Homo sapiens: one gene and its partners. The protein of the gene in region 4 purifies or fractionates together with the protein of the main gene of each other region. This does not show direct contact. Each region holds a gene or a part of one and is shown on either strand. Other genes may lie near its edges. The genes, in order: EPB41L3, EIF2AK2, EPB41L5, MIDEAS, ZMYM3, SEC16A and CLTA.

Region 1 (3,500 bases), on a different chromosome or scaffold from region 4:
CTGTGAAAATGGGGGGATTTTGAGACTCATACTGCAGTTGAAAGAATCGCTGTCATATTATCTGCATTGGCATTGCTAGCATGGTGAAATTTCAGCCTGCCTTTACATTGTTTGAAAACTTCAATTTAGTCCTTTTCTGATTGTGTCTGAACACTGCTGCACTGCATGCCGTTGCTTCTGGGCTTGTTTCTGCCCTTACCAATGGCTGATGTCATGTGGGTGCTTTAAACTGCTCTGACACAATACAATGCGGGATCTGATTGACTGACCTCTCTGTGAGTAACAATGACTGTCTGGCAATGATGAGCAGAGGGTGGTGGGGACATTTCAGGATCTCCAGGGAGGAGATACCTTTGCAACTTTAGAAAGCTACCCAGGTGATGATGATACATCCCCTCCGGGGATGCACTCTTCCACCTCTCCTTGACTGTCATTTAAGTTGAAAACTACTCATCATCTGTCTTATATGTGATTTACCTTATTAAACCATAACTGATCAGAACCTTTAGCTTAGCCCTGATCTTTTACACAGCTGACGGGTTATATAAAATTGACTTCTGGCTGAGTCTTTCATCCCACGTAGAACTCAGTGGGTAGCAGAACGATTCCGGGTTGGGCTCAGACTGCTACATCCACATGGTGTTGTGCCTAACCCTGGGGCCCAGGTTGGACTCCCCAACACACAGAAACCTCAACATATTGGCACAGACAATAAATGAGGCTCTGAAAGTAGGACCACTATGGCAGCAGCCAGCTAACACTGTTTCGGACTCAAGCACGGAACACGAAGGGGAAGCGTGTTCTATGCCGAGGTACACACCTCTTCCTCTGAACTGTCACTCGGGTCATTGTCTAGGGAGGCGCTCAAGGAGGCCGCCTTGGGCTCCAGGTAGCAGAGGCACAGAGCCAGAGGGAAGGAGAGAGTGAGAGCGTATGGCACTGAGAAGGAGGCAGACAGCAGAAAGAAAAAGATGAAGAGGAAACAGGGCACAAGGGACGGTGAGCGGATCGGGAGGTAATGCTGCAAGCTCTGGGGCAGGAGGTTGGTTTCAGAAAGGTTGGGGAAAGAGAGGTATCCATCATCATCTAGGAGGGAGGGGAATGACTCAGGGAGCTGCAAGGAGAAGGAGAACAGGGTGGTCCCCTTGCCAGTTTGCTGTCTGTAGCTAAAAGCCACATCTTGATCCCCTAGGTAAGGCCTCCCTGGGCCATCAGAGTCCAAGGCGGGCTCTCCAGGCAGGTGCTCAGCTCTGGACGGCTCATAACCTGGCAGTTTGCAGTCATTCTCCTTACACCTCCTACGGAGCTCTGTGGGAGATGTGGGGGCACAATGGGTGGATGGGGGTGACAAGGGACATGAGTCAGTGCCAAGCCCAGGTGACTGATGTGAAAGAGACAGAAAGAGACAGAAAGCAGCAAACAGAGGTGCAAAAGGACAAAAAGAAAACTGCAATTAGTTAATTTTCTTATGGGTATCAATATAAAATTGTAAAACAAAAATTTTAGCACTAGGGTTGCTCATGAATGTTAAAGTATTCAAGCTGCATGCCACTGTTGCCACGAACGGCTACATTTCTCCCATGAGACTATCACATACAGGTGGAATTCTTTAAAAACTCAGAACAGAAGGTATTTGTGGGCAATCCCAAAGTCTACACATTTCACATGGTCAAAAAATTTCCCTTTAGACTAACAACTCTAGAAAGTTTCAGGTTTTGGGGAGCAAACATAAGTAAATCTGATAACTTAACATGAAGACTTTCAATAGCCTTCTCCTGATTTCCAGGTAGCAGAGCTGTTACTATAGTTCAGCTAGATTAAAAATGAAGATGAAATCCAATCCAGATTTTGATTAAAAAAAAAAAACCAATCTCTAGCATTAGTCCTTTCCCTGGTTATTCAATTACATCCAAAACAAGGAGTTTACATTCCAAATCAAGAAGTTTCTGGCCCCACTCCTATCTGATAAGTAGTTACAATCAGGGATTCGACAGTTAGCATTTCTGAATATCTCACTCCTCAGAAAAGAACTGAAGTTCCCTTGAAAGCTCTATTTTGGCTCCTTTATTTAGGATATTAGTGGAACTTCAACTGAAGTGATTTCAACAAGCTAACTAGCAAAAACAATGTGTTTTCTTGTAACATGCTTTGCCAGTATTTACTTTCTATTATTTATGATGCATAATAACAGAAAGATATAATTTCCCAGCCTTCTGATTTTTCTTAGCAGATAAAGGGCATATTTAGATCTTTGGTTTGAGTCCTTAATATAATGATAAAAGCAGGGTTTTCCACAGGTGCTCCCCTGGTGAGCTCAAGCTTTTATGGGGCAAGTGAATCTGCTTCTCCTCCTCTCTGGGTCCTGGAAGTCTCCACGACCAGGGCCAGTTTCCTCTGCAGGTGGCGGAGGGGTTGCTGGACAAGAAGGGGAGGAAGGAAAGCACGCAAGCCCCAAGCAGGACCTGGGCAGGTACAGCAGCTGCTGCAGGCCGGGAAATCCAAGCCTGAAAGTAATTAGACTTCTGCTGATGTCTGTGTCACTGCGTGTGTGTATGTGTGTGTTTTGCCCAGTGGCCTGACAGCATGGAAATTACCCAGCCTGCCTTGTGTGGTTATGCAATCCTGACTTGGGGAGAAGTGGTAAATATAGCGACAGAAAGAAAATGCACAAATAAAGTTACATCTGAGGCATGAGGGAAAGAAAATGCACAAATAAAATCGTAGCTCTTCGGCCTTTGAAGGGTCTCTTTTTACGATGAGAGAAGTATGTCTTTTCCCACACATTTGCATTTGACATTAAAGACGGCACTTTAAACAGGAACCTGCACAAATCTCATTCAACTAAGAATAATGTAGCTGCTACACATTAACTTCTGCATGAAGACAACTGTCCTCCAGCATGGAGGTGAGGCAGCCCCATGACCCAGGGGATCCCAGCCTGGGAAACGTGCCTCCTTCCCAGGCAACCTAGGGGACCAGCCTTTCAAGAACTATTTTCAGTAATACACTTTCATTTTGGTTGAAAAGTAAGTACCCTCTGCGTTACTTTTTGAAGAAGGAGAAGGATAAAATTAAGGTTTAACCTTCCATGCTGATTATTAAAGTCATTTCTAGAAGACAGCTTTGCACTGGGGAAACCAAGCCAGCCCACACCTATATGAGCACCAGATTTCAGCTACAGACTTCCTGAAGACATTCTGCCCAGAGTGCTGGCTTCTCAGAGACTCAGGCTATGAGGCTGGTAGTGTCCTTTGTCTTTTCCCACATCACAAATGGCACCAAGTGAGGACAGCTTAGTGCTACGTTTTATATAAACAAACTGGTGGTCTTTTAAAAGCAAATAAAGTGAAAATGTCCGGCCTTATCTTGGGAGCAAAACTAAAAATCACTTACATTGATGTGTCACTTCTTCAATACTTATACATCCATGGGAATCTTATGTTGGCATGGCGAGTTTATAAAATGTTAGAATAACTAAGAAGAAGAACCACATATTTGTT
Region 2 (3,500 bases), on a different chromosome or scaffold from region 4:
TCTTGATGTGGATGCTTGGATGGAGAGAAGAGAGTTCTGCACATGAGGTGCCCTCAGCCACGATTACTGTGGCAGTCAGGAGGGATGAGGAGAATGTGTGAGAAAGACTGTAAAGGAAGAGTGGACATGACTTGAGGGAATAGGTTCCCCGTAGCTGAGTGAAAGCATGAAGGAGAGGTAAAGGAGAAAGGATTTGAAGATTGCTTCACTTTGAACAGGATGCAGTCAAGAACCATGGCACTAATGGTGTTAAGGAAGTTAAGGAGTTAAGGGCTTAGAGAGAAGACAGCAGTTTGGATATGTTTAGTTTTAGGTGGTATTTAAACTTCCATTTGCAGGTGGCTTATCATCAGTAAGGAATAACAGCTAGGATGAGGGTGTAAGGAGATGTACTTCCTGAGGTTTTGAGTCTGGAGGAGGAAAAGGAGAGGTTAGTGACGCATCAACAATGAGCACTCTAAGGTGGAAAAAGGAACCAGAGGAGGGATGAAAAAGTATTAGAGGCCAGAGGAGAACGGTAAGTATATAGTTTTATAAAGAAAAAAGTTGGCTGGGTGCTGTGGCTTGCGCCTGTGATCCCCAGCACTTTGGGAGGCCAAGGTGGGAGGATGGCTTGGGTCCAGGAGTTCGAGACCAGACTGGGTAACATGAAGAGACCCTGTCTCTACTAAAAATAAAAAGAATTAGCCAGGTATGGTGGCACATGCCTGTAATCCCAGCTACCTGGGAGGCTGAGGTGGGAGGATCTCCTCTGAGCCCAGAATTTCAAAGTTGTAGTGAGCTATGATCACACCACTGCACTCCAGGCTGGGAGATGGGGTGAGACCTTGCCTCTGAAGAAAAAAAAAGAAAGAAAAAGGTTAACATTAACACTAAATAAGTTATATTTGATTTCAATTTTATTTGAGTTTTACATTCAACTCTTAATTTTTAGATCTTTGGCACCCAGATTTGACCTTCCTGACATGAAAGAAACAAAGTATACTGTGGACAAGAGGTAAGATTTTAAGTGCTGAAGAAAGAAGAAGGGGTAATGCTGTCGGTGGATGTTTTTGGTAGTTGTCTGTGAAATGGCCATGATCCTGTCAGTTAAAAATATTTGAATAAGATTAACTACGCAGGGTAAGAACAATAGTCTTAGGCTTATCATTAAGAGGGGGCCCAGGAATGGGATGACCCATATTATGATTTTGTTCCCAAACCAAGAATCTAGTTGGTTGTTTTGATACTCCCTTAGCTTTTTAGCCCTTTCTTTAAGTTTTTCATCAGCGTTTCTTACTAGGCCCAATTGGTTGAGATAAAAGCAACATTCCTCACCCAATGAGAGGCAGAGGTCCCTTTTTTCAGCCATTATTAGATCTAGTCCCCATCTGTTTTGGAGGACTACTCCAGCCGAGGAGTCTAGTTTGTCTTGGACTCTTATAATGCTTCAGGCTATATCTTCTAAAGAACCCTGTAATTCTGTGGAAAGAGCTTTAAAGTATGTTAAGGGAGTGGCCAATCTGCCTGCTCCCAATCCAAGTCTGGAGGTTATATCCAAGGCAGCCATTAAAGGAATGACGTGGATGGCCCTCCTCTTCCTAACGTATTGGATGGATGGAATGGGCAAAGGTTGGCTAGGAGGAATTAGTCCAATGGAGGGAGAAAGATAAACTAGGGTACAGGTTCCAGTCCAGTTAGTGGGGAGACAAAGATATGTGTTGGTGCCACTCACACAAAAAATAAGCCTTTGTCATAAATACAGTTGGAGATACAGAAAGAAAACAAGTGAATTAAAGATGGGTGTTTTTTCTTTCCTATGGTTCATTACTCCAGGTGGTCAAGGAGGAGGTCAAGGAGACACCCACTATAGTAGCGATATAGGAAGAGTTATTTTTTACACATTTAATACGATTTGATGTTGCACCATTGCATTGATGTTGAGCCATGGATAAAGGTGGGCGCTAGGGGCAGCACAAATTAGGCCAGAGGCATTGGTTGAGGGAGAGGCTGCAAAACGAACAGGTTGCAGAAATGCTCCATTCGTTTCAGGTGATACTTGGTAGTCAACTCGGTTAGTTTGATGGTCAGCAGGGTGTTTAACAATGATAATGCGGTTGCATTGGTTAGGTTTAAGGATCTTACACGGAAATTTCCCTCAGAGGCTGAAAAGCAAAGTGAGGCTTGTTGTAAAAGTGGGGTGTGTTTAATTATGGGCCCTTCAATGGGAGGGCCTTGTGGCTTAAGGCGTTGTAGGGAGTTGTAATAGGTTTGAAATAATGTGTTGGCCTGATTGACCTTGGAAGTGGGATAATCGCCAACCAGACTGTCAGCTCTTTCAAAAAAGGAAGCTCCTTTTTGGAGTTTATAGATTAGGGTTACGTTTTCTGTTAAAAGGTCATGAAGGGGTGTAGGAAGGGATGTATAAGCTGAAGAAGACAGCGATAAACACATCCAGCATTCTGGAGCAAAGGAAGAGTTAGCTTGCAGCAAGAGGGGTTGTGTAAGGTTTATAGAACGTTCTAGTTTGATAGCAGTGAGGAGTGGTTGTATCGGTGAGGTTGATGTGATTAGGGAATTTAGATAGAAAGAAACAACAAAAGGAGGAAAAAGTTTGGGTAGGAATAAAGTCCTGGAAGGTTCCTTGAAGCCATAAATCCCGTGGAATAGTAAGGAGCTGATCAGGATGTATAATGAGAGTTTCATAAGGATACCACTGAAGGTCTGTAACAAGGCTAGTTAGGAAGCAATGAAAGTTTGGGAGAGAAAGAGACATAGCTGCTTAGGTGAATTTCTCTTCCTTTTCCTCCGGCATTCATGTGAGATGAAGGGAAGTGGATCCTGTGGAGACACAAGAGAGGCTGAAGGTGGTTTAGATTTGATTGTTTGGATGTGTAGTGAAGGGAAGTCTGTGTTCTTGAGAGAAGTATAATGAAACCAGCTGGGGAGTCCCTGGAGCTTTGCTGCTGTGGGTGTAGTGAGGAAGATCTGGTAAGGCCCCTTCCATTTTGGTGTGAGGGGGGAATTGGGGGTAGGGCTGGGACCTTTTACCAGAACCCAGTTTCCTGACTGTAGGAAGGGATTAAAGGAGTTGTATTTTGTCAGCATATTCCCAAATGAAATGGCAGATGATATGCAGAAGAGGAGAAATGAGAGGGGTTGTTAGAGGTGGGGCTTGACCCTGAGGTGGAACAAAAGGAGCATGAGTTCAAATACTTATGCTCAAAACTCCCATACATGAGTTCAAAGGGGATGAGCATTAAAGGTTTACGTGAGAGTGCCCGAATTTTTAGGAGGGCCAAAGCTAGAAGTGTAACCCAGTCTTTATGTGTTTGGAGTGAGTACCTGGTGCGGGTGATTTTTAGAATGCCATTCATTTTTTCAACCTTTCCTGAAGACTGGGGTTGATAGGGGATGTGTAGCTTCCAGGTGATTCGTAGGGCTTGTGCAAGTGTTTGAGTAATTTGAGAAATGAATTCAGGACCATTATCAGATTGAAAAGAAGGAGGCACCCTGAACCT
Region 3 (3,500 bases), on a different chromosome or scaffold from region 4:
AGTGGATTTCTGACAATCCTTGTTGAACCATTATTAAAACGTTGTGAATCTTTGAGAATAACAACACTTAAATGTGTACTGTAAGACTTTTAGCTTCTATGCACTTCTGTATTTTTTAAAACTCTCCTTACTTTCTTCTAAATAAATATTTCCCCACAATTTGGTTTACTTGCAGACATTAATGAGGTGAAGTGAGAAAAAGGACTTTCTTCATACCCCTCAGCTCTGACTGCCTGTCTCTTTGCTCCTGAAGTATTTTGCATTGTAGGTTTTTCATACACTGTAGTCTTTATCTCAAGACAGGCTGTTGTAATTATATTTGCATTTTGGATAGATTTTTTTTTTTTCAGAAATATATAATCATAACTCAGTGTGAAACAATCTGACATGTTTGAAAGGGGTTAGCTTATTTTTTTACAGGACTTTTTGGGTGGAGGAGGGGAAGAAAAGGTTGGCTTTTTGGTTTTGGGCAGTTGAATATTTTTCTGAGTTGCTTGCTAATACCAAATCTCTTTCTCATGTCTTTGTTCTGCATTCAAAGACTTAACGGTAAATTACATCATTTGATGTGAGCTTCATAGGATATTCCTTAATGTCTTTTCTCCCCACAGACTTTTTAGTACACACTCATCTACCCAAAATTCAATTTAAAAAGTCTCTTTGGGCAAAGTGATAGCCTACGTGCTGCTGTAATACATAATTGAATAAGCTCGGGAAGACCTTAAACTCACCAAGTGAGAGTATAAGGAATTGGAGAGTTTGTTTAAATGGATGTTCTGATTAACTTAATAATTTGGAATGTATTAGATATGTACATTATACATTTTAAAATATTAGAATATGATAAAATTAATCAAAGACTCAGGATTTCTTGAAGTGTTTTGAAGTCATCATTACGTGTATTTGTTATCTTTGTCTATAAGAATGTATATTTTTAGGGTTTTTGATTCTGGACAACTTGAAAGCATCTAAATTTTCTTCCTGTAAGTGCTTCTTGAGGGTTTATCAGACATTCCAACATGAGATATTTTGTGAGGATAGTTTTCATACTCATTTCTTATTTGATAGGAATCTTAAGAGTTTTGTTTACTATTTCATTAAAATATCATTGGATATGTGGTGAAAAGCCTGAGATTGCTGTGTAAGAGACTGGAAAGAAATTTCTTATTACCTAATGTTTGAAGTATGAAGTTTCAGGGTTGTTGATGGACAAGCTGATAGTAGGAGAGTAGAATTTGTAAAAAAAAAAAAAAGAGGTTTTTAAAAACGCAGTGCAGTATGGAGGAGAAACAACACTAGCTTTTAAAGTGGTGGAACAAATGGCTAGTTACTGATCTGGAATGGTTTCCTAAACTTTGTATGCTTAGCTGGGTGTATGTGATGCTTGATCAAATTTATAAACTAGCTGGTCTCTCATGGGGACAATTGTAGTGAAACAGCTGGAGATATAGATTGGACTTTTTGTGAAACAAGAACAGTTGTCAGCCAGGTGCAGTGGCTTATGCCTGTAATCCCAGCACTTTGGGAGGCTGAGGCAGACAGAACCCTTAGGCCAGGAGTTCGAGACCAGCCTGGCCAACATGGTGAAACCCATCTGTACTAAAAATACAAAAATTAACCGGGCGTGGTGGCATGCGCCTGTAGTCCCAGCTACTCAGGAGGCTGAGGCAGGAGAATCACTTGAACCTGGGAGGTGGAGATTGCAGTGAGCTGAGATCGCGCCACTGCACTCCAGTCTGGGTGACAGCAAGACTCCGTCTCAAAAAAAAAGAAAAAGGAACAATTGGGCCAGGTGCAGTGGCTCACGCCGGTAATCGCAGCACTTTGGGAGGCCGAGGTGGGCGGATCACAAGGTCAGGAGTTTGAGACCAGTCTGGCCAACATAGTGAAACCCCGTCTCTACTAAAAATACAAAATAGCTGGGTGTGGTGGCGGACGCCTGTAATCCCAGCTACTTGGGAGGCTGAGGCAGGAGAATCGCTTGAACCCAGGAGGCAGAGGTTGCAGCGAGCTGAATTCGCACCACTGCACTCCAGCCCGGGTGACAGTGCGAGACTCCATCTCAAAAAAAAGGAACAACTGTCTTTCCAATTCTGTAGGTGAAATCGTACTTATTAACCTAACTCTAGGTACGTGCATGGATATAAAGTGGTCATTGGCCTGTTTTACTAAATTGTCACTAAAGGAAAAAATAGTCCAGAAGAATAATAATTTCTAAAAAAGAAGAAATGATTTCCCCTTTTCAGATTTATTTTCTCAACCAGTCTACTGTGATTCTGGGAGAAGATTTAGAATTGATTTTAGAAATTGAATGAAGCACATACTCATTTCCCATTACGATAAGGGTCTAGGATAAGGGTCACTAGTGATTATAGTTAGCCGTCTTCTTCCTTTAAAGAAAAAAAATTAAATAGGGTGAGAAGGCCTTTCAGTGAATGACAAAGGTATCAGGTAGAAATTTCTATCTAATTTTTAAGTTTTTTCTTTGAAAATACGACAGTAAACTTGTTTAAGAGCTTAGTATTGGTAAATAGCTTTAATGTAAAACCCTTATAAGTTTTAAATTGGGAAATGTTTGGTCAATTAACCAATAGATAACAATTTTTTTTCCTTTTTTTAAATTGTACTTTAAGTTCTGGGATACATGTGCAGAACGTGCAGGTTTATTACATAGGTATACACGTGCCATCGTGGTTTGCTGTACACATCAACCCGTCATCTACATTAGGTATTTCTCCTAATACTATCCCTCCCCTAACCCCCCACCCCCCGACAGGCCCTGGTGTGTGATGTTCTCCTCCCTGTGTCTGTGTGTTCTCATTGTTCAGCTCCCACTTATGAGTGAGAACATGTGGTGTTTGGTTTTCTGTTCCTGTGTTAGTTTGCTGAGAATGATGGTTTCCAGCTTCATCTGTGTCCCTGCAAAGGACGTGAACTCATCCTTTTTATGGCTGCATAGTATTCCATGGGGTATATGTGCCACATTTTCTTTATCCAGTCTATCATTGATGGGCATTTGGGTTGGTTCCAAGTCTTTGCTATTGTGAATAGTGCTGCAGTAATCATACATGTGCATGTGTCTTTACAGTAAGATGATTTATAATTCTTTGGGTATATACCCAGTAATGGAATTGCTGAGTCAGGTGATATTTCTGGTTCTAGATCCTTGAGGAATTGCCACACTGTCTTCCACAATGGTTGAACTAATTTACACTCCCACTAACAGTGTAAAAGCATTCCTATTTCTCCACATCCTCTCCAGCACCTGTTGTTTCCTGACTTTATTGATGGCCATTCTAACTGGCATGAGATGGTATCTCATTGTGATTTTGATTTGCATTTCTCTAATGGCCAGTGATGATGAGCTTTTTTTCATATGTTTGTTGACTGCATAAATGTCTTTTTTTGAGAAGTGTCCATTCATATCCTTCACCCACTTTTTGATGGGGTTGTTTGTTTTTTTCTTGTAAATTTGTTTAAGTTCCTTGTAGATTCTGGAT
Region 4 (3,500 bases):
GCCTGGCCCTGCTGAACTCTGTGGTATATGGGCCTGAGCGGACCTCAGCAGCCATGCTGTCCCAGCAGGTGGCCTCAGTAAAGTGGCCCAACTCTGTGATGGCTCCAGGGCGGGGCCCGGAGCGTGGAGGAGGTGGGGGTGTCAGTGACAGCAGCTGGCAGCAGCAGCCAGGCCAGCCTCCACCCCATTCAACATGGAACTGCCACAGTCTGTCCCTCTACAGTGCAACCAAGGGGAGCCCGCATCCTGGAGTGGGAGTCCCGACTTACTATAACCACCCTGAGGCACTGAAGCGGGAGAAAGCGGGGGGCCCACAGCTGGACCGCTATGTGCGACCAATGATGCCACAGAAGGTGCAGCTGGAGGTAGGGCGGCCCCAGGCACCCCTGAATTCTTTCCACGCAGCCAAGAAACCCCCAAACCAGTCACTGCCCCTGCAACCCTTCCAGCTGGCATTCGGCCACCAGGTGAACCGGCAGGTCTTCCGGCAGGGCCCACCGCCCCCAAACCCGGTGGCTGCCTTCCCTCCACAGAAGCAGCAGCAGCAGCAGCAACCACAGCAGCAGCAGCAGCAGCAGCAGGCAGCCCTACCCCAGATGCCGCTCTTTGAGAACTTCTATTCCATGCCGCAGCAACCCTCGCAGCAACCCCAGGACTTTGGCCTGCAGCCAGCTGGGCCACTGGGACAGTCCCACCTGGCTCACCACAGCATGGCACCCTACCCCTTCCCCCCCAACCCAGATATGAACCCAGAACTGCGCAAGGCCCTTCTGCAGGACTCAGCCCCGCAGCCAGCGCTACCTCAGGTCCAGATCCCCTTCCCCCGCCGCTCCCGCCGCCTCTCTAAGGAGGGTATCCTGCCTCCCAGCGCCCTGGATGGGGCTGGCACCCAGCCTGGGCAGGAGGCCACTGGCAACCTGTTCCTACATCACTGGCCCCTGCAGCAGCCGCCACCTGGCTCCCTGGGGCAGCCCCATCCTGAAGCTCTGGGATTCCCGCTGGAGCTGAGGGAGTCGCAGCTACTGCCTGATGGGGAGAGACTAGCACCCAATGGCCGGGAGCGAGAGGCTCCTGCCATGGGCAGCGAGGAGGGCATGAGGGCAGTGAGCACAGGGGACTGTGGGCAGGTGCTACGGGGCGGAGTGATCCAGAGCACGCGACGGAGGCGCCGGGCATCCCAGGAGGCCAATTTGCTGACCCTGGCCCAGAAGGCTGTGGAGCTGGCCTCACTGCAGAATGCAAAGGTGAGAGTGGCATGCAGTGGAGCCACACCTGGCAGAGGGCATCAGGCTGATAGGTGGGCGGCTGCAGGATTTGCTTCTTGCCTAGGGAAAGCCAGACTTTGCCCTAGCCAGCTGCCTGTGGGAAAACAGTACAAAGACCACCCTTCACCTTGCCACAGGGTTCTTGCTTACTTTCTTTTGCAGAAATATTTTTTGAATAATTAGATACTATTTCAGATACAGATAGATACAGATCACCGGGTTCAAGTGATTCTCCAGCCTCAGCCTCCCCGAGTAGCTGGGATTACAGGCGCCTGCCACCATGCCTGGCTAATTTTTGTATTTTTAGTAGAGACAGGGTTTTACCATGTTGGTCAGGCTGGTCTCGAACTCCTGACCTCGTGATCTGCCTGCCTCAGCCCCCCAAAGTGCTAGGATTACAGGCGTGAGCCACCGTGTCCAGCCAGAAGCACTTTCTATAGAAGAGAACAGTGTGAGGCTAGGCGCAGTGGCTTATGCCTATAATCCCAGCACTTTGGGAGGCCAAGGTGGGTGGATCACTTGAGGTCAGGAGTTGGGAGACCAGCCTGGCCAACACAGCAAAACCCTATCTCTACCAAAAAACACAAAAATTAGCCAGGTGTGGTACTGCACGCCTGTAATCCCAGCTACTGGGGAGGCTGAGGTGGGAGAATCATTAGAACCTGGGAGGCAGAGGTTGCAGTGAACCAAGATTGTGCCACTGCACTACAACCTGGGTGACAGAGTGAGACCCCCTGTCTCCAAAAAAAAAAAAAAAAAAAAAAAGTGGTCGGAGAAAAGGTAGTCAGGGAAAAAGGTCAAGTTGTGAGACCACTGGGAGCCACTGTGGGTGTTTGAGTCCCGTGACTAAATGGGAATGAGGGTCCTAGATCAAATCAGAATTTATCTTTTATTTGTTTATTTATTTATTATTGAGACAGGGTCTCACTCTGTCACCCAGGCTGGAGTGCAGTGGTTCGATCTCGGCTCACCGCAGCCTTAACTTCCTGGGCTCAGGCAATCCTCCCACCTCTGCCTCCCAAGTAGCTGGGACCACAGGAGTTTGCCACCATGCCCAGCTAATTTTGTTTTATTTTCTGTAGAGACGAGGTGTCACTATGTTGCCCAGGCTGGTCTTGAACTTGTGGCGTCAAGTGATCCTTTAATCTTGTCCTCCCAAAGTGCAGGAATTATAGGCGTGAGCCACTGCGCCTGGCTATGACTTACCTTTTAAATTGCACTTCTGTTCCCATCTTGTCCAGGATGGCAGTGGTTCTGAAGAGAAGCGGAAAAGTGTATTGGCCTCAACTACCAAGTGTGGGGTGGAGTTTTCTGAGCCTTCCTTAGCCACCAAGCGAGCACGAGAAGACAGTGGGATGGTACCCCTCATCATCCCAGTGTCTGTGCCTGTGCGAACTGTGGACCCAACTGAGGCAGCCCAGGCTGGAGGTCTTGATGAGGACGGGAAGGGTCCTGAACAGAACCCTGCTGAGCACAAGCCATCAGTCATCGTCACCCGCAGGCGGTCCACCCGAATCCCCGGGACAGATGCTCAAGCTCAGGTATGAGAGGCGCCCCTTCTAAACACCTCCAGCGCGTGAGTGCTCAGGGGGCCCAGGACCCTATGGGGAAAGGAGAACATGGCAATGTAGGAAGGTATCAGGGAACCTGTGGAGATACTATTTTTATTTTCCAAACCAAACTTCTGGACAGACGTCCAGAAGGGGCATTTGGAGATGTCCCCCTCCTAATGGGGGATGAGACAGTTTTATACTTGAAATTGAAACTGCCTAGAATTGAATTCTAGGTTGTGTACATCTCTTTTTCCAGATCAGCAAATTCTGATTTGGCCCGTGCTGGGTGCTGGGAATGAGAGGTGTTTGCTTGTACTGTCACTACTGAGATCTTGACATCTTTTTTTTTTTTTCTGAGGCAGAGTCTTGCTCTGTCACCCAGGCTGGAGTGTAGTGGCGCAATCTCGGCTCACTGCAACCTCCGCCTCCTGGGTTCACACCATTCTCCTGCCTCAGCCTCCCGAGTAGCTGGGACTATAGGCGCCCACCACCGCGCCCAGCTAATTTTTTGTATTTTTAGTAGAGATGGGGTTTCACCATGTTAGCCAGGATGGTCTCGATCTCCTGACCTCGTGATCCGCCCACCTCAGCCTCCTAGAGTTTTGGGATTACAGGTGTGAGCCACCGCGCCTGGCCGACATCTCCTTCTAAGATTGAGGTTTTGCCTACTTTTTCTTTAGGT
Region 5 (3,500 bases), on a different chromosome or scaffold from region 4:
TAATCTACAACTCCTCCCCATCTTCACAGGGCATCCTTAAGGGATCACACCCTTATCACTTCTAGACATCTTCAGCTGAATCACAGGCCCAGCCCCTTCTCCCCTTTCCCCTCCTCCTCCCTGTCCCTGCCTCCCCACACCCCCCATCCCCAAGTACTTACGGCCAAAGCGCAGCTCATCACCCTTGCTGGTTTCTCCATTGGCATATTTTGACTGCACCCAGCACTTCCAAGCATTGACACCATATGAATAGTTGAGCCCGGTACAACTAGGCTGACTGCTCATGGAGTCCCGGGAGCAGCTTTCGGAAAGCACCAGCCGCTTTTGACCCTGGAGGGGAAGAGAAAGCAGGGGCATGGCAGAGGTAAGGCCAGAGGCAAGGTGAAAGCTAGTCAGCACCATATTTACTGCTGGCCGGGGCAGGGGCTGATGTAAGCACACAGCAAGCTTCCATAGCACAGAGCCCCAGGAACAGCTTTGATGACCTTGTGAGATGGGGGGAGAGCAAAGTTTGGCTTTATCTCAGTACTTCTAGTGTTGGAGAAAGGAGGTTAGGGAAGGTCAAACTATGGTTGCTGGCTTGGCTCTCGCATCATCTCCCCTTTGGGCCTCCATTCTTCTTTTGTACATACAGTAGCCCCAGCCCTACCTTCCTCATGGTTCGGGGAAGGTCTTGTTCAGTAGACACATCCTCAGGCCCTACCAGGCCACAATCAAAGAGGAAGTCTACACTGGGATTAATGTCCAGAGGATCTAATGAAAAGGAAAGAAAGAAGAAATCAATTTCTTAAGATCTCAACCCTGCAGCCCTCCTGCCCCACCCCTGCTACTTGCCCACTTGACACTAGATGAGCCAAAGGAACCAGTAAAGCTATACCAAAAAGCATGCTCAGAGGCACAGAAACGCAAAACACAGCAATGTGAACTACTGAACCGTAAACATGTTGAACATGGTAAAATTTTATGTTTTTTTTCAGCTTAAAAATTAAAAAAAAAAAAAAAAAAAAAAAAGCATGACTCAGAAGTCTAAAAGAGTGCACCTGTCCTGGTGTCTCTGGCACTGCTCCCTGTGAGAACCTTCCGTCTTAGAATCACAATGAACACTTTTCAGGGTCATGCTCAGGGACACAAGGGACACTCCCTTCCTGATGGCACAAATGCTACCATACTCAGTGGGCATGGCTCCAATCTTACTCACTCTTAGGGAAGTCTGCCTCCAAGTCTTGCCCAGGCTCATCCAAGACATTGGCCATCTTGACTGCCATGGCCAGGACATCATCTCGAGCAGGCCCAAACAGGTCACAGTCTTCCAGGAGTCCCTCTGCACTCTGGTTGCTCACAAGATCTGGGAAGCAGAGAAGTTGGCTCAGTGGTTACAAGCTCCTGCTAGCACCCTCACAAGCTTTCAGGGACTGATCCCAACTATCCTCCCATTCTACTAGGCACCAAGATCACCAATACCACCCCCTCGGGCAGAGACATGCTGGTAGCACCCTGTCTCCCTCGTCGCCACCATCTATGGCATACCACAAAGGTCAGATGAGGCCTTGTCTAACTCCTCAGCCTCTGCAATCATTTCTGCCATAGCCAGGATGTCGGCCTCCAAGGGGTTGGAAGGGATCTTCACCTTCAGCTCCTCAATGGTCTCTACAATCTTGTCTGTGCTCTCCAAGGTAGTGGGCAAGAACATGGGCACAGGCACCTGGAGGCACGAATCCCAACTAAATGCCAAGAACCACACCAGCAGTTGGGGGGAAGTTGGGGGGACAGATGATGAGTGAAGGGGGACAGTTGATGAGAGTAAGGGGAAAGGAGGACCCAGCCAGGAAGGGCAGGGAAACTCACCGGGATAGGCATCGAGAAAGGCACCGGGACTTTCTGGCAGTACAGATGCATAGGCACTGGCACGAAGATGGGCACTGGGATGGGCAGCACGATCACCTGTGGCTTCCACTCTTCTGTGGATAAGAAAGGGGTCTTCTCAGAGACCCTGCTGGACTGGTCACATCTGACCCACCAAAAGCTCTAACATGCTCAGTGTCACAAAACTGCCCTTGAATCAAAGGCTGAAAGACACCTCTATGATTCTAGGACAACCATATGAATGAGGCTTCAGCTACCTAAGAAATCCCCTTGTCCAGCTCACGGACATAGGGCTGGCAGGCCTAGGACTCTGGAATACAGCCTGTGGCATCGAGGTACCCTGGCTCACCTGTTTGACTTCCTTTGGACTTCATCTCCACCTTGCAGGAGACGCCCCGATTCTGCATCAGTGGCTTACACATGGCAGCCTTGTTTTTGCGGGGTGTTGCTGGGGGTGGTGGGGGTGGAGGGGTGGGAGCAGTGGGAGCTGATCGGGTCTTCACAGGGATCTGCAAAGACAGAGGAACATTTGTGCCACCAACCGCCGTACCCTCCTCTGAGATTATCCTCCCCCTTGGCTTTTGCCCCGACCTTGCCCAAATTCCCATTTTCCTCTGGGGTCCTCACTGTGTTGCTGTTCTCCACTTTGGTTTGAGAGGGTGTCTGGGGTTTTGACTCAGGAGACTGACCTGTAGATCAAAACAAATGAATGCTCTCATCCAAGGGACTAGCTCTCCATTTTCCTTACCCCTGTTCCAGGAGAGCTTCATTAACAGGTACACCAAATACAGATGGGAACTTCTAGGATTTGACCCCCTTGCCATCCCAGATCTAGTCTCCTCTATGCCCCAGCAATAGCAGCCTAAAAGATTATTTGTTCCTGGAGAATGAAACATTACATTTTCCCCCAAAACCCACATTTGAGACCTTCCACTTAGATAGCCTGAAGAGTCTGTTATCCCTGGAGTTGTGGAGGGGCAGGGGTAACATTCTAGAAATAGCAGTCTTCAGTCTCACTAAATGTAGAGTTTATGCTGAGATTTCCTTATCTCAGAAACGTAACCATAACCCCTATATGCTCCATCCTACCAGGAAAGGCACCCACTCCCTAACAATATATATTTCATAGACAATCAGTAGATGCTAACTCCAAGAAGCTTTAAATAAGACTCCCCCGGTACCTGCAGGGTTCGGAAGCTAAAAGAGAATACAGTTCACAGTACTAGCACCCTATCTGGCCAGGGGTGAGCTGAACGCAAGAGGAAGGAGAAAGGGGCTAGGCTTAGGATTAGGAGAGTCCAGGCTCCCTCTAACAGAGTGTACCCCCTGCCTGGGACTCACTGTTCAGGAGGCTCTCGGGCCCACTCTGGGTATCCAGGTTGGGTTGGTTCTGCTGGCTATAGAAACGCAGAAGACACTGCTGGTTGCAGAAATGACGGATCTGCCCACGCCAGTGGATGGTCTCCAGCAGCTTCCCCTGGCGCTTACACGCATGGCACCGGGCAGCCTGAGGATGTCAAAAGGATGGTCAGACCTGCCTCCCTAAAATGCGTTGGGCCCTTTCTTTCCCCCGGGATAAGCCATGCTCCTCCCCTTGGAGATCGGGCCAGCTTAGAGATGGAAGGCTGGCTGCCCTC
Region 6 (3,500 bases), on a different chromosome or scaffold from region 4:
GATACCAATTCAAACAATCTAAGTAGCCAAAAGCTTGTTAGCACTGAGTGCCTGCCCAGCCATGACAGCTGCAGGCTGGCAGCACCTGCTTACCTGGAAACTAGGCAGGGGGCAGGTCTCGGCACCCAGGGACTGGGCGTACTCATAGGCTTCCGTCCTCTGGATTGCTTCGTTGGTTGCGAACTTTAAGAATGGCAAACTGTAGAGGAAGTGAATTATTTTGATTTGGAAAAAATGGCCAATTATTGGCATAGTCAACCTTGGAGCAAATCATCCAGAAGTGTGTCCCACCACGTGACAAATAAAGACATGATTCTGGCCATTTCTGAATTCACTAAAGGAGAAGGATTTTGTTTTACTTTGAAAGGAAAACTTACAGGACTACACTGACTTGGTTCTTTACCTGTGATTGGATCCGATTAAGACAAGCTTTGTAGTTTTCTTCGTGTAAACACCAAATCCCGCCTGGGCCATGAGGTAGCAGAAGTGGGCCGCATCCAAGAGGCCCCTTGAAGCTGCGGAGAGACGACACGACACACGGCGGGGGCTCAGCGACCGGGAGCGCTTGCAGAAGTCAAGGACGCGCACAGAAGGCACCAGAGACGCCAGCCGGACCGAGAAGGCCGGGTTCTGGTGATTTCTGCCAACGCCACAGACAACCGGGCCTTCGGCGCTCCATCCGCGACACCCAATGCCCATCTCCACCCCTGACCTACCCAGAGTGTCGCCCATGGTAGCCATCGTCCTGGACTCGACGTCCATGTTGTTGTTCAAGTTGGACAAGACCATGGCGAGGTGCGGCCTCCAATCTCCCCATTTCTCGTCTCCACAGCACTAACATGAGGAAAAACAAAACGAAGCCTCATCCCCGGAAGCCAGCGCCATTTCAATTCCACACAGCTGGGCTCACCAGGCACCTCACGGCCTGTGACAGCGTCACCCACGAGCAAACTCCACACAGGCAGTGGAGCCTGTGCAAGCCACCAGGCAGTGCCACTCACCGTGGACGCGGCAGGCATCCGTCCGGACATGAGCTGGTAGACTGTCTGCAGAGGGTCGTTGATTGGGAGGCTGTTAGCAAACCTAGGCAGACATAAACACAGAAAGACCCCATGCTGGCTCAGCTAAAAGAAAAAAGCCGGCCGGACATGATGGCTCACGCCTGTAATCCCAGCACTTTGGGAGGCCAAAGTGGGCGGATCACCTGAGGTCAGAAGTTAAGAGACTAACATGGAGAAACCCCATCTCTACTAAAAATACAAAAATTAGCCGGGTGTGGTGGTGCACACCTATAATCCCAGCTACTCAGGAGACTGAGGCAGGAGAATCGCTTGAACCCAGGAGGCAGAGGTTGCAGTGAGCTGGGATCGTGCCACTGCACTCTAGCCTGGGTGACAGAGCAAGACTCTGTCTCAAAAAAATAAATAAATAAAATAGTAATAAAATAAATTTTTTAAAAAATCAGCCCTAAGCCCTCTGATGTAATGATTAGACTTATATTTCACTTAGGCAAAGTACACACATCTCAATATTTTATTTTTCTTTCTTATCTCAATATTAAAAAAAAAAAAAAAGCTGTAAAAGATAAGGCCAGGTATGGTGGCTCACGCCTGTAATCCCAGCACTTTCAGAAGGCCAAGGCGGGCAGATCCCTTGAGGCTAGGAGTTTTGAGACCGGCCTGGCCAACATGGCAAAACCCACCTCTACTAAAAATACAAAAAATTAGCTGGGTGTGGTGGTGGGTGCCTGTGGTCTCAACTACTTGGGAGGCCAAGGCGTGAGGATCACTTGAACCTGGGAGGCAGGGGTTGCGGTGAGCTGAGATCGCGCCCCTGCACTTCAGCCTGGGCAACAGAGCAAAACTCAAAATTTAAAAAAAGCTATAAAAGATGAAGACTGAGGAATTCACTGAGATTTTACATGAAGTACTAAAAACCATGCAGTTAATTAAAAACTTTTTAAGCTCTCCACAACACGACCCAAGGAAGCCTCGAGGCCAAGGAAGCCCGAGTTCGTGTGGGAGCACAGCACAGTCAAGTGAGATCCGCCTGCCGCCTGCCCCCAGGGTGCGGACGCCGCGTGCTACAGGGAGCCAGCAGGGCTCGCCACTGGACCAGGCCACTGTGGGACTGTACCTGGTCATGACTCGGGCGTGTGTCCGGCTGTCCATCTTACTTGCAAGTAGCAGAGCGTGACCCCACAGGCCATTCTTCATTGCAGACTCCAAAGCATCCTGCAAAAGGCATTTCAGGGACCTTGGTGGGTTATCGGCGGCGCTCACGTGACATGAGTCAAGACAGGCCATGTGTCCTCACGCAGCAGCAGATACACAAACAACCCAAAGGCCTCAAAAACACACTTATTCACCATTTGGAGACTAAAGACACGTAGCGATTCATTATTTTCCTGAGTTTCAAAGTCCCTGTGGTAGTGGGTATTTGTAGATATTTGCTGCTTTTATCCATTTTCAGCATAAAACACAAGCACGCTAATCACAAACAGGGCTAATCACGCAGCGCTGCCCACCACGCCGCCCCATCCACTGGGAAACACGCTCGAGTCAACTCCCCAGTTCTAACAGGAGGCCTCCGCGAATATCCTGTCAACACGGAGAGTGACTCCAGTAAGGCAGCCTCCCCTTTCACCAAAATCATCCAGGGCATAATTTAGAACTTCTGGCTGGGAGGCAAAAACGTTACAGTAGAGAAAGATGTTAATAAAAGCTAACAGGTTACATGACTTCAATCAGTTATAAAACATCCATAATAGACTCATACTGATCAGGCCGGGCGCGGTGGCTCATGCCTATAATCCCAGCACTTTGGGAGGCCAAGGTGGGCGGATTGCTTGAGCCCAGGAATTCGAGACCAGCCTGGCAACATGGTGAAACCCCGTCTCTACAAAAAAAAAAAAAAAGTTAGCCAGGCGTGGTGGCATGCAGCTGTAGTCCCAGCTACTCAGGAGGCTGAGATGGGAGGATCACTTGAACCCAGGAGGTCGAGGCCACATTAAGCTGTGATCACGCCACTGCACTCCAGCCTGGGCAAGAGTGAGACCCTGTCTCAAAAAAAATTAAAAATAAAAAAATAAAAATACTGGTCAAATATGCCCTTTCTGAGTTTATCATGATATAAAAGGACAGAAAACTCTCAGCCTATCCCATGTCTCTGCTGTTCAGGGCCACACATGCTTCTGAGACTGGCCTCTCTCCTGCTTAGCACATCCAAAGCAAACATCATGCACCCTAGACAGCCCCTCCTGTGCACATAGTGTCACTGCTGCAGTCACTATGGACCCCCCAACCCCACTGTCCCAGAGCAGGCTCCTGTCTCAGGCCCCCCACCTGCCCCAGTCCCCACGCTGCTGTGACCCCAGTCACTGGACGCTACACGCACTGGCTGCTCTCTTGCCCATGGCCTTTCCATGCACTGCGCCTCTGACAGGTTCAGTGTGCCCTCCCAACTCCCAATGACTTCTGGGCTGTGGACTCGAGTCTGAC
Region 7 (3,500 bases), on a different chromosome or scaffold from region 4:
GAACAAGCAAGGACCAAAGCTGTTAGGACCTATTTTCATCTTCCTACAGCTCCACTGTCCAATATGGTAGCTACTAGCTACATGTGGCTACTTCAATGTAAATTTATTAAAATTAAAGAAAATTTAAAATTCAGTTTCTCAGTCACACTTGAATTGTGAAGCCACACTTCAAGTACTTAACAGTTACATGTGGTTAGTGGCTACCATACGAGACAGCACAGATACAGAATATTTCCACCAAAGAAATCACTAATGAATGGTGCTATAAAGGTTCAAATACTAAGTGCATTCTTTGTTCTGAAAGCCACCTAAATTGGACTAGAGAGATAAATGATTTGGCACTAATTGGCTGTGTCATCTGGGTCATGTCCCTTCCTATTTCTGGGTGTCAGTTATCCCATCTGAAAAATAAGGACTCATGTTTTCACTAGTTCAACAGTTCCCAAGAGGGAATAATACTGCTGACGTTGTGGTTACATAGGAGAATGTCATTATTTCTAGGAGGTGTACATTGAAATATTTAGACACAAAGTATATGATGTCTTTATCTTAAAGTAGGTCAGCCAAAACAATTTGTGTGTGTGTATGTCTAAAACATATCATTTATATAAAGATAATCCATTAATTACTGAATCTGGGGGTGCACATGTTTATTTTCCTCCTTTCAATTGTTCTGTAAAGTTGAGAAAAGATGAATCTTAAAGTCAGCTGATTAAAAAAAGAAAAAGAAAAAACAAAGAAAAGGCCACAATGTGGATTATATCCTCACACTCTGCATACTTCTCCAATCCACCATGTACAGACACAAGTCTCCCCTGATCATGAACCAACAGGTGACACTCCACGTACACATCTCTTTATCAAAGGCCAGGCTGTGTGGCTAGATGGCCACGCACATTAAATGTTTAGAAAGCAATGTGGCTGATGGGGATGGGTAGTGACTTTGAAGCAAGGCAGACTTCAGCTGAAATTGTGACTCTTACCATTCCTTAGCTGAGTATTCCAAATACTTATTCTACCTCTCCTCCACTTTTCTTACCTGTAAAATTGTAAAACTTACCTTACAGAGATATTAAGGTAGGAAAAACAAATTGTACATTTTTTCCTAACATACCTCATTTTCCTCGTGTTACTTTAAATTCATTTAGCCTTCAAATAAAAAATGGAGGCCGGGCGCGGTGGCTCACGCCTGTAATCCCAGCATTTTAGGAGGCCAAGGTGTGTGGATCACAAGGTCAGGAGATCGAGACCAACCTGGCTAACACGGTGAAACCCTGTCTCTACTAAAAATACAAAAAAAAAATGAGCGGGACGTAGTGGCGGGCGCCTGTAGACCCAGCTACTCAGGAGGCTGAGGGCAGGAGAATGGTGTGAACCCGGGAGGCAGAGCTTGCAATGAGCCGAGATCGCACCACTGCACTCCACCCTGGGTAACAGAGTGAGACTTCATCTCAAAAAAAAAAAAAGAAAAAAGAAAAAAGAAAAATGGACTGTTAAAGTCCACGGACATAGGAAACTTGAATCCTTCAAGTTTATAAAGCACTCTATAAACACCACCTGAGGCTACTCTTGAGGTCAGGAGCAGCATCACTATGCTCTTCCTGTGAGAGGATCTTGGGGATCTCCGGCTACCCTACTCCTCACACAATGGCCTGTGATTAGGCATCTCTGTGCAGGTAGCCTTGTAACCTTCAGGCTGAGAAGATATCTTCCCAAAGACCAGACAATGACACTGGTTAATGTGAGCTAAAAAGGAATAAAAGTAGAGTCCAGCTCAACTACTCCACTGAAAACAGACACCAAAACACAGAAGGGATTCCTTACCAAGGGCTTCCAAGCGTTCCATTTGTTCTTCTCTCCATTTACGGATACTTTCAGGCTCTGACTGCAATCGATCCACTTGTGAAATAGCTGCATAACTGTCTGTTGGACCATTACTTTCCTTAACACAAAACACAATTGTGCTATATTAATACCAAAAATTCCTTCCTAAAATGCACTTCACCTGAGTTAGAACCCCTGGTTCTGTTTTTTTTTTTTTTTTTTGAGACAGAGTTTTCACTCTTGTCGCCAAGGCTGGAGTGCAGTGGCACGATCTCGGCTCACTGCAACCTCCACCTCCCGGGTTCAAGCAATTCTCCTGCCTCAGCCTCCCGAGTAGCTGAGATTACAGGTGCCTGCGCCTGGCCTATGTGGTTGCTTTTTTTTTTTTTTTTTTCTGGGGTGGGGGAAGGGGGGACGGGACAGGGTCTTACTCTGTCACCCAGACTGGAGTGCAGTGGCGCAATCTTGGCCAACTGCAACCTCTACTCCCCGGGTTCAAGCAAATTCTCCTCTTGCCTCAGCCTCCCCAGTAGCTGGGATTACAGGCACATGCCACTACCGCCTGGTTAATTTTTGTATTTTTAGCAGAGACGGGTTTCACTGTGTTGGCCAGGCTGGTCTCGAACTCTTGACCTCAAATGATCCACCCACCCCAGCCTCCCAAAGTGCTGGAATTACAGGCGTGAGCCACCGTGCCCGGCCTGTGTTGTTGCTTTTAAGGTAATCCTTTAACATTTTACAAAAGCCGCCATTGTTGTTAGAAACGGGTTCTGCAGTGAGCCAAGGTTGCGGTGGCTCTGGCGGGGTGCGGTGGCTCACGCCTGTAATCCCAGCACTTTGGGAGGCCAAGGCGGGATGGTCACTTGAGCCCAGGAGTTCAAGACCTGCCTGGCCAACATGGCGAAACCCCATCTCTACTAAAAATACAAAAAATTAGCCGGGCGTGGTGGCATGCGCCTGTAATTCCAGCTACTCAGGAGGCTGAAGTGGATGAATCGCTTGAACCCAGAAGGTGGAGGTTGCAATGAGACAAGATCGTGCCACTGCACTCTAGCCTGGGCGACAGTGAGACTGTCTCAAAAAAAAAAAAAAAAAAAAAGACTCAAATAAATGTTAATCTTTACAAAATTATTCCATATGCCACTCACTGAACTAAGGAATATTAATATTACCAGGTTAACCTAATCAGACTATAAACAAAGATGGAAGGAGAATTATTTAAAGTATTAGTATTAACTTACTGCACTCAACACAGTATCATTTGAATGGTGATTTCTTTAGAATAAAGGTGATAACACTAGGGGCAGGTAAATAACATTTTTAAACAGTTCTCTTTTTATCAATGCTACCTCTCTTTAAATCTTTCCACTTTGGTAGATAACACACCAGCCAGTAATACATTCAGGAAAGTCAAAGGACTGGGGTTTCTTTCTAGGTCAGTCAATTAAAATCACAGGAAAGGAAGATTCTCAATCACTATCAATGAACAGAATCAGAGTACTCTGTACCTGGTAGTATTCACCATTCATTACTCCATCAACAGCATCTGCAAGACATAAGATTTTGGTCTATCAATAAGGACTGGTCAAACACTGGGCCAAAGGGTTGTACAGTAGAATACAGCATCATATGCTGTATGAACCTTGAGCTACTAAATGCTATCCCTGTGGTAGGTG

What was found.
Region 1: the proteins of MIDEAS (region 4) and EPB41L3 purify together in Homo sapiens (affinity purification with mass spectrometry; one large-scale study listed by BioGRID and IntAct). This does not show direct contact.
Region 2: the proteins of MIDEAS (region 4) and EIF2AK2 purify together in Homo sapiens (affinity purification with mass spectrometry; one large-scale study listed by BioGRID and IntAct). This does not show direct contact.
Region 3: the proteins of MIDEAS (region 4) and EPB41L5 purify together in Homo sapiens (affinity purification with mass spectrometry; one large-scale study listed by BioGRID and IntAct). This does not show direct contact.
Region 5: the proteins of MIDEAS (region 4) and ZMYM3 purify together in Homo sapiens (affinity purification with mass spectrometry; one large-scale study listed by BioGRID and IntAct). This does not show direct contact.
Region 6: the proteins of MIDEAS (region 4) and SEC16A purify together in Homo sapiens (affinity purification with mass spectrometry; one large-scale study listed by BioGRID and IntAct). This does not show direct contact.
Region 7: the proteins of MIDEAS (region 4) and CLTA purify together in Homo sapiens (affinity purification with mass spectrometry; one large-scale study listed by BioGRID and IntAct). This does not show direct contact.

What each region holds. Positions count from the first base shown.
Region 1 is NC_000018.10:5,414,998-5,418,497, forward strand, and holds part of EPB41L3 (band 4.1-like protein 3), read right to left. Parts: intron 1,382-3,500; coding exon 821-1,381; intron 1-820. UniProt on the Homo sapiens protein: Tumor suppressor that inhibits cell proliferation and promotes apoptosis. Modulates the activity of protein arginine N-methyltransferases, including PRMT3 and PRMT5.
Region 2 is NC_000002.12:37,132,981-37,136,480, reverse strand, and holds part of EIF2AK2 (interferon-induced, double-stranded RNA-activated protein kinase), read left to right. Parts: intron 1-934; coding exon 935-997; intron 998-3,500.
Region 3 is NC_000002.12:120,019,577-120,023,076, forward strand, and holds part of EPB41L5 (band 4.1-like protein 5), read left to right. Parts: intron 1-3,500. UniProt on the Homo sapiens protein: Plays a role in the formation and organization of tight junctions during the establishment of polarity in epithelial cells.
Region 4 is NC_000014.9:73,736,304-73,739,803, reverse strand, and holds part of MIDEAS (mitotic deacetylase-associated SANT domain protein), read left to right. Parts: coding exon 1-1,244; intron 1,245-2,471; exon of another isoform or gene 2,472-2,506; coding exon 2,507-2,806; intron 2,807-3,500.
Region 5 is NC_000023.11:71,244,141-71,247,640, forward strand, and holds part of ZMYM3 (zinc finger MYM-type protein 3), read right to left. Parts: intron 3,371-3,500; coding exon 3,205-3,370; intron 2,553-3,204; coding exon 2,455-2,552; intron 2,373-2,454; coding exon 2,213-2,372; intron 1,959-2,212; coding exon 1,846-1,958; intron 1,703-1,845; coding exon 1,528-1,702; intron 1,346-1,527; coding exon 1,199-1,345; intron 754-1,198; coding exon 650-753; intron 331-649; coding exon 162-330; intron 1-161. UniProt on the Homo sapiens protein: Plays a role in the regulation of cell morphology and cytoskeletal organization.
Region 6 is NC_000009.12:136,459,041-136,462,540, forward strand, and holds part of SEC16A (protein transport protein Sec16A), read right to left. Parts: intron 2,235-3,500; coding exon 2,137-2,234; intron 1,084-2,136; coding exon 1,002-1,083; intron 835-1,001; coding exon 717-834; intron 516-716; coding exon 404-515; intron 200-403; coding exon 94-199; intron 1-93. UniProt on the Homo sapiens protein: Acts as a molecular scaffold that plays a key role in the organization of the endoplasmic reticulum exit sites (ERES), also known as transitional endoplasmic reticulum (tER).
Region 7 is NC_000009.12:36,197,421-36,200,920, reverse strand, and holds part of CLTA (clathrin light chain A), read right to left. Parts: intron 3,371-3,500; coding exon 3,333-3,370; intron 1,943-3,332; coding exon 1,825-1,942; intron 1-1,824. UniProt on the Homo sapiens protein: Clathrin is the major protein of the polyhedral coat of coated pits and vesicles.